2 separate regions of the Homo sapiens genome follow, and region 2 is linked to region 1. The links come from fine-mapping of genetic effects on gene expression. A gene starts in region 1. The other region holds a variant in brackets. All regions are shown on one strand. Distances are between the middles of the regions.

Region 1 (4,511 bases):
AATGGGCTCTGTGTCTCCCCATCAAACCTCAGAACTCCTCATTTGTAAGACAGGAGAGGCCGGTGTGGTGGCTCATGCCTGTAATCCTAACACTTTGGGAGGCCGAGGCAGGCGAATCACCTGAGGTCAGGAGTTCGAAACCAGCCTGGGCAACATGGTGAAACCCCATCTCTACTAAAAATACAAAAAAAAAATTAGCCGGGCATGGTGACGGGCGCCTGTAATCCCAACTACTCAGGAGGCTGAGGCAGAAGAATTGCTTGAACCTGGGGGGCGGAGGTTGCAGTGAGCCAAGATTGCACCACTGCACTCCAGCCTGGGCGACAGAGCAATACTCCGTCTCAAAAACAAAAACAACAAAAAACAAAACCCTGTAGTGGGTGACTTGAAGGGATACTGTTGGCTGAATGAAGTGAGTGAAGTGACCTGAATTTCAGCAACAGCAAGTCAAGGTCCTTTTGTGTGCAGCAATGAAACAGTGCTTCTCAGAGTGTGGTCCTGGACCAGCATCACCAGCCACGCCTGGGAAGTTATTAGAAAATCCGAATCTCAGGCCCTTCCCCTAGGCCCACTGTAACAGAAATTCATTGGGGAGGCCCAGCACTTTGTGTTCCAACAAGCTCTTCAGGGAATGCTGATGCACACTCAGGTTTGAGAACCACTGGCATAGACTGATCTGAGTTCTCAAGGCTTAAACCAACCATCCCCAGGAAGCAGACCCAGGGAAGAGCCAGTAAGAAAGCAAAGGGAGGCTTCAGTAACCTCCTTTCAACCAGTTTCAGTGGGAAGACAGTGTTAGCTCTCTCACCACTGGACTTTAATTTTGAATCCCGTGCTGGGTCTGGAATAAGAAAGGAGGGCAGCAAAACACTTCCTAGCTCTCCGCAAAATGCCAAGATGGACTCCTGAAGGCCAAGAACCGTGTCCAATACATCTGTGAGTCTGTGGTGCCCAGCCCAAGGCCTGGCAACCAGAGGCATCAGGAAAGGTGGGAGTAACTGCCCCAGGCGGGAAGAATAAGCAGCCCTTCCTAAGAGTGTGGGTCCTAAGGACTGAACAAGGTGACTCTCTCCCTCAATCCCAAACACACAATGATGTTAGCTCCCGAACCAGAAAGGGCAAGGACTTTGAGGGGCTGACTCTAGCTAGCTGCCCCAAGCCCCACAACTGCCAAGCAGAAGGGAACTGAGGCCCCAGATCACTCCCTTACTCCACCTCCCCACTTGCCCAAAAACCCAAGCTTGCCAGAGGTCATGTCCGCAGATCACATTCACCCTTGCCAGAGGTCAGGGCCCCCGGCCCTTGGCGGCGGGCCAGAAGCGTGACTTGGCCTGCTGGAATGCATGCCCCTAAACATCTCTAGACTAGTGGCAGTGTCCGCCAACCATGGAGGCCCTCCATCACCATCCCTGCAGCATCACCACCCTCCAACCCCCATGTCCCACCCTGGCGCTTCCATACCTGTAGTAAGAGAGCAAACCATTGCCCAGCACGAACCAGCGGCGCTGGTAGCCCTTCAGATAGTTGGTCCACTTGAGAAGCCAGCCCTCGAAGCTGTCCAGAGGCAGTAAGGCCAGTGGGGCACTGGAGGTCGTGCCAGTCCCCGACATTGGAACCCCAAGAGGAGTCTTCGCCTGTCCTGGTCGCAGAAGAGGCAGGGGCTTTAACGCTGGCAGCGATCCTGACTCGGGTCTGAGAAAGGTCGCGCTCCCCACCGCCCGGGAGAGCGGCTCCGATGCGGCCTTAGTGAAGGGCCCAGCCCCTACACCTGAGCTTGACTCTGACCCCGGCCGCGACCCCTGCAGCAGTTCCGATGGCTGCCCAGCCCCTGGCTCCGGCTCAGACGTCGTCTCGGACACAGGTTCCGATCTTGGCACTGCCTCCGAAACTGCCTCCGACACCTGTTCTGACAGCGGTCCCCGCTCCGGTTCGGGCACGGGCTGGGGCTGGGGCTTGGGCTCCGGCCCGGAGCCGGACGTGGAAGCGCTCATGCCCGGCGCCGCCGTGTGGCACGACAGGCAGGGGACAACCGTGAACAGCGACGAGAGCCCGCGGGAGCGGCCGCCACAGCCGCCGCCTCGGCTCGGAGCCGCCGCTTTCCCCATAGAGCCGGCCGACCCGCGCGCGGCCGAGCGGCCAGTGGGGGCGGGGGGCAGGCCGGGGGCGGGGCCGGGGGCGCAGTCACGTGCGCGCGGCGCGAGGCGGGGGCGCGCGCGGGTTCCTCCGCGGTCCCGTGCGCTCCGTGCCCGTCAGCGCCCGCCGGCTGTTGTGCTCTCGGCCAGCCTCGGGCCATGTTTGGACCCTGGGTCCTTCCTAGGTCCGGCCGGTGGAAGGAGCTCTGACAACACCTGTGGGCGGAAGAGCTTGGTGGTCGGTCAACTCCGAAGGGGATGGCGCGCTTCAGGCCACGGTCTCTGCTTCGGCCCAGCCGTGCCAGGCGCTGGAGGAACAATGATGAATGCGGAGCCCGCCAGCTCCCAGCGCAGCTCTGCCCACGGGACCCTGCGCCGACGCCCCCTCCCCCAACCCAGGCTGGGGTGGGTTCGCTCTCCGCCACCCAGGAAAGCCGGGTGGGAAGCAGGTACGGCACCCAGAGGCCACGAAATGCGCACGAAGCACAGGGGCGCTAAAGGCTAAAGACGACGCCCCGCCCCCCATGGCAGCCATTACCTGTCTGTGGGTCGCTCCTGCGGCCGCCAGAAGCGGTGGCCCCAAGTGGCCGCCTCACCGCCTCCACCTCCTGAGCCAGCTGGCCTACGGTTCATGCCAAGGCGCTTCGCTGCCAGTGACGACATCGTTCGGGTTCTCTAAACAAATAGGGGAAGACTTTTTGTAAACCAAGCGTTTTAGTACAAGAAACATCTCAAAGTGGGATTCTGAACTTGGACCTCCCGGGATCCCTGGGTAGGCTGGCAGTCTGTGAGGCTTCCGCAGAGGTTTACCTGTCTGTGCATTTTTCCAGAGTAGGTCCATAACAAAGGAGGCTGTGACCCCAGAATGGTTAAAACATCAGCGAATTTTTTTTTCCGCTTTTTTTTTTTTTCCTTTTTGAGACTGAGTCTCACTCGGTAGCCCAGGCTGGAATGCAGTGGCGTGATCTTGGTTCACTGCAGCCTCCGCTTCCCAGGTTCAAGCGATTCTCCTGCCTTGGCCTCCCTAGTAGCTGGAATTCCACGGCCCGCACCATGCCCAGCTAAATTTTGTATTTTTAGTAGAAACGGGGTTTCACCATGTTGGTCAGGCTGGTCTTGAACTCCTGACCTCAGGCCAGGATCCTCCCGCCTCGGCCTCCCAAAGTGCTAGGATTACAGGCGTGAGCCACTGTGCCCAGCCATCAGTGATTTTTTTTTTTTCTTAAGAATCTATCCAAATGACGAAAGTTGATGGTTACTACAAATAATCAGAAATACAAATGGAAAGACTGAACATTGGGTTTCTGTCCAGACTTTTCAAGCTTAGACCTCTCTGCAGACTCCTCTTAGCTCACCATCACGTCTTACTCTCCCCTTACCCACCTATCCATTCCTGATCTTTGCTTGTGACAAGATAACCTGTGTAGGGACTGCTTCCTACGTGAAGTGGTCCCCAGAAGGAAGCAGATTGGAAGGTCCTAGAAATAGGAGGTGCAGACATGCACTGAGCAGGAGCCGCTGGCATCTTTGCTGGTGACTTTGAGACCCCTTCCTCAGGCACTTGTCTTTGAATGGTGGTCTTACCTGCAATTTTGCTGTGAGCTCTGGAGTGCAGAGAGCCCCCCATCTTGGTCTATCTCATATGTATGACGGTGACCCTCAAACTTCAGCATGGTGAGTCCCCCCAAGGAAAAGTGATTGCCTCTGGGGTGTAGTGGGGGACAGAACTGGACAACTGAGAAATGAGGTGGAATGCTTGCTTTTCACTCACACTTTGAACCTTTTGTATGTTTTACTGTGTATGTTTCACTGTGTGTATGTTTCACCGATTCAAAATAATGATGATAATTGTTAAAATCACCCCAGGGAGGTTTATTAGAAACACACTTTTCCAGAGCTGGGCACGGTGGCTCATGCCTGTAATCCCAGCACCTTGGGAGGCCGAGGCAGGCAGATCACGAGGTCAGGAGACCAGTCTGGCCAACATAATGAAACCCTGTCTCTACTAAAAATTAAAAAAATTAGCCGGGTGTGGTGGTGTGTGCCTGTAATCCCAGCTACTCGGGAGGCCAAGGCAAGAGAATTGCGTGAACCCAGGAGGCAGAGGTTGCAGTGAGCCGAGATCGCAACATTGCACTCCAGCACGGGCGACAGTGAGAGACTCCATCTTAGTAAAAAAAAGAAAAAGAAATTCACTTCTCCATCCCCAGTAAGTCAGAGGTGGAATCCAAGAACATGCTTTTTTTTTTTTTTTCTTTTTCTTTTCTTGAGACAGTGTCTTACTCTGTCACCTAGTCTGGAGTGCAGTGATGCAATCATGGCTCACTGCAGCCTTGGCCTTCAGGGGTCAAGTGGTCCTCCCACCTCGGCCTCCAGATT
Region 2 (4,000 bases), 170 kb before region 1:
GGCCACCCCAAGCTCCTACAACTGCACCCCTGGCCCAGATGTGCCGCCCTGGGGGACTGTCCTGGGAGGAGGCTGTTGCAGTCAGACCTGTGTCTGGAGGGTGGAGGCCTGGAGGAGCACGCACACTTCTGGGGAACACTCCCCAGACAGAAAGAGGGAAGCAGGGCCAAGCACTATCCTCCTACCACCATCGAGACACCCTCCTGGCTCCCAGTCCTAGCCGTGTGGCTTCCAGAGCCAGGGTGAGCGGCTGACTCCTGTGGCGGGGCTGCTTAGTTTACAACTGCGGTTACCTGCTTTGTCTACCATCAGGTTGGCACGACCTCGGCAGGCTCAGCTCTGAGGCCCTTCTAGCTCAGGGAGCCCTCGACTGCAGCCCCCCACCACACCCTCCCCTTGTTGTGCACAGCGTCTGCTCCCACTGCATCTGGGGAGTGAACCCAGGGAGGAGGAGTAGCAGCCACCGAGGGCCAGTGTGGCAGCTGTGTCCCTACTGTGTGGGCAGAACTGACCTGCTGGGCTAGCTACTTAACTTGGGGCCCCGACCTTCCTTATCGAGGCATGAAGTAAATAACTGCAGACTGCACCAGAGTCCACAACCAACTCGTTTCCTCCAGACAATTAGGAAGAATGTCCTTGCCCAACGACGGCCGAGTGAAGGAGATGATTTAAGAACTCGGAAGCTAGCTGGGGGGCGCTGGCTTTGGGAAACACCGTGGAACCGCAGGAAATGGAACGCTGACCCTTCAAGCTGACCCTGGTCACCCACCGAGGGACCCCGGGGCTGGAGCCAGGGAGCCCCGTGCCAGGGCGGTGGGGGTGGGTACTCACGTTGATCATAGCATTGGATGTGATGCGGAAGAGGGTGGCCCGCTCATTCACCACCTTCAGCTTCTCCCCACTCTCAGATGGGATCTTGAGGCCGTCCAGCTCTGTCAGGGAGCGCTGGAGTGCAGCGCCGTGCTTGGCGATGAGGTCATTGCACGTGCTGAGGTCATCTAACTTCAGGGAAAGATTCTTCAGGGTGTGGTGCAGCTCGCTCTTGTCGGCTGGGGTGGTAGCCTCGTCGTCGTCCCCAGAGTCATCTGTGGAAGAAAATAGAGTTGTTACGGTCATTACGAACAGACGTGGTACCAAGAGGCCTGCACAGCCAGGCCGAGCAGGGCAGGGTGGATAGCGCCATTCAAAAAACATCAGTCCCCGAGATGGTGCCCGTTCCTGTTCCTGGCCGGGGTGAGGTGCCTGCCCCATCCTGGCCCAGCCTTCCCAGGGTGGGGTGGGCAAGGGCCCACCTGAGTCAGTGGGAAGGACTGTAAAGAGAGCCCAGATTGAATGGCAGGGCCGGGACTGGGCTTTGGAGGCGGCAGGCCTACAGGCACCCACCTGCATGCAGGGCGCCAGCTCCCTACATTGTGGTGTGCAGGGAAGGATGGGCTCTGCTGGGTGGAGAGGTGGAGACTGCTCTCTGGGCACAGAGGCCCCCAGAATGGAGCCTGGGCTCCTTTCTCAGCATCGCAGGCCTACCCCAAGCCAATCACCCCCGTCCAGTCAACCTCACTTTGCTCTCTGCTCATGCCCATCCCCCAGCCACACCAATCTGTCCCCTGTTCCCTGCAAAGGCCTGAGCGCTCCTGTTTGGGGCCTTTCCC[G/A]CCATGTCCCCACTGCATGGAACCTTCTCATATCTGCCCCCACCAGAGGTCCTGCCCCACCCACCCCTTTGAGGGCCAGCCCAATGCCACCTTCTGTCCAAACTCTGCCAAAAGAGCCTGGGCAACATGACAAAAGTCTGTCTTCTACAAAAAATAGAAAAATTAGCCGGGCATAGTGGCATATGCTGATGGTCCCAGCTACCCAGGAGGCTGAGGTGGGAGGATCACCTGAGCCCAGGGAGGTGAAGGCTGTAGTGAGCCATGATCGTGCCACTGCACTCCAGCATGTGTAACAGAATGAGACCTTGTTTCAAAAAACAAAACAAAACAAAAACACCCAAAACACAACAACAAACAAACAAAAACAAAGTCTGCCAAAAGGCCCAATGTCACAGTTGAGGCTCCCCTTCACCGATCTCCCTGCAGGAACACAGCCATTCTCACTGATAGAATGCCTTCTGTGTGCAGACACGCTGTGGCCCCTCAATGGCCTTGCAGGGTAGGGACTGGACCATCCCCAGGTGACAGATGAGGAAATCGAGGCTCTGAGAGGTGAAGTCATACCCACACTGCCTGGCTGGCCACCCTCTTCCTTCCGGGCTGCTGAGGCCTCCATGAGAGAGGCAGGCTGTGCCCTCTGCCAGCTCCCACGCCCCCTCTTACCTCTCTCTCACGCAGCTGCCCAGGGCCCCTTTCCTGCCAGCCCAGCCTGCATCTGGGGTTATGGGGCTGTGGGCGTCTCTGGGGGGTGGCGCACCACAGCAGGTGGGGCAGGAGGCAGCTGGCCTAGGGCCAGGCTGCTGTTTAACAATGGCACAGGACACCAAGAGGCTGACACCACCCAGTGAGTCCCAGAGCCTGTAACTGCCAAGGGGTTTCTGAAATGCCTTGTTTAGAAATAATCAGCTAAAAACTATTTTTAGATGAAGAAAATCTGTAACCCAAGATATAAGACTTTTTTTGAAAAATAATGCATACTGTGAGAGAACGTTTCTTCCCACGGCAGGCAAGGTACACGGGGGTGGACATGGCTGAGTCACTGTTCCGAGTGCACGTGGTGTCCATGGCAGGGTCAGGCCAGCCAGCTGCATGGGGCCCAAGCCAAGGGGAGCTGAGGAGGGTGCCCACGGCATACCCTGTCCCCCTCTGGCCACAGGGGCTTGGGTCAGCATCCAGCCAGGAGGCAGGGAGCCTCCCATCACAACTGCAGCCCCCAAATGACAATAACTTGTTATTCAAATGACCGCCTGCCCCTCTCATGGAGGCCCCAGCAGCCCAGAAGGAAGACAGTGGCCAGCCAGGCGGCCTGAGCATGGCTTCACCTCTCAGAGCCTCAATTTCCTCATCTATTGCCTGGGGATGGGACAGTCCCTACCCTGGCAAGGCCATTGAGAGGCCACAGCGTGTCTGCACTCAGAAGCCCAACTGCGGCCCCCAGACGTCTGGAGGCCACACGGGCTGGGCCAGGGTCTGGGCCACTGGCTCCGTAAGCTGTTGCTCTGGGCCTCACGGTAGAGGTCAGTAGACAGTGGCTATTCTTCCCTCCCTGCAGGCAAGAAAATGCAGGTTCTGAGAGGCCAAGCCACCAGCTTAGTGCCCAGCTATTGAGGGGCAGGGTTGGGATCTGAGTCCAGCTCTGTCTGCTCACAAGCCTCCCTTTCTCTGGATCAGCCTTAGAAAGGCTCTAACGGCTGATGTGTACCACACCTTTCCGGGTGCCAGGCTGTGGGTGAGGCGCTGCCTCAGTTAATGCCTGCGAAGACCCCGTGAGGTAGATCTGGGGACGGAAAGGTACATTGAAATTGCCCAGGGCCATGAGGTGAGGAAATTCCTGAGTAGCCAGGTCTCTGGCTTTAGAGCCTGTGCTCTTACCACCTGTCCCTGAGGCACACGTCATCTTCCAGGTTCAGTACATCTAATAACCAGAACGGCCAGCCCCCTGTCCATCAGAATGGCCCCCGGCTCAACACGGGGAGGGCCTTGAGGGGGTATGCCCAATGCAGATGCGGGTCAGCCCAAATGTGACCCCTGCTCTGTAAGCAAGAGCTGGTGAGAGGTACAGTGAGTCTAACTGTAAGCATGTTAGCATCCTTCTGTGTGGCAGGTGGAAGCAGGTAGCCACATTTCTGTATAACTTGTTATTCAAGAGTACACCTTAGTAAGCAGCCCTTAAGGTCCAAATTCAGGTCCCCAGGGACACAGGGACATGCTTGTTCTGGCCTCAAGTCACTGGCCGTGTTGTTGGGGCAGGATGAGAAGGCACTTGGGCCAATGATTACCCATGAGCACAGTCTGTTCTGCAGAGACAGGCAGGGAGAGGTCCCCTCAAAGGGACAGAGAGATCAGGAGAA

The links.
Region 2: its variant is fine-mapped to the expression of OSBP2 in whole blood (TOPMed, PIP above 0.99).

The regions. Positions count from the first base shown.
Region 1 is chr22:30,692,504-30,697,014 of GRCh38, reverse strand. It overlaps OSBP2 (oxysterol binding protein 2), which reads right to left and starts at 2,141. Exons shown (of 14, transcript NM_030758.4): 1 at 1,462-2,141. The coding sequence starts at 2,105. RefSeq lists silencers at 1,955-2,004, 2,389-2,468.
Region 2 is chr22:30,867,514-30,871,513 of GRCh38, reverse strand. OSBP2 (oxysterol binding protein 2) reads right to left here. Exons shown (of 14, transcript NM_030758.4): 3 at 832-1,085. Among named protein-coding and RNA genes, the nearest start is that of MORC2-AS1, 53 kb to the left of the region's middle. RefSeq lists enhancers at 2,423-2,958, 2,959-3,495. The variant G/A (reference allele first, on the strand shown) is at 1,650.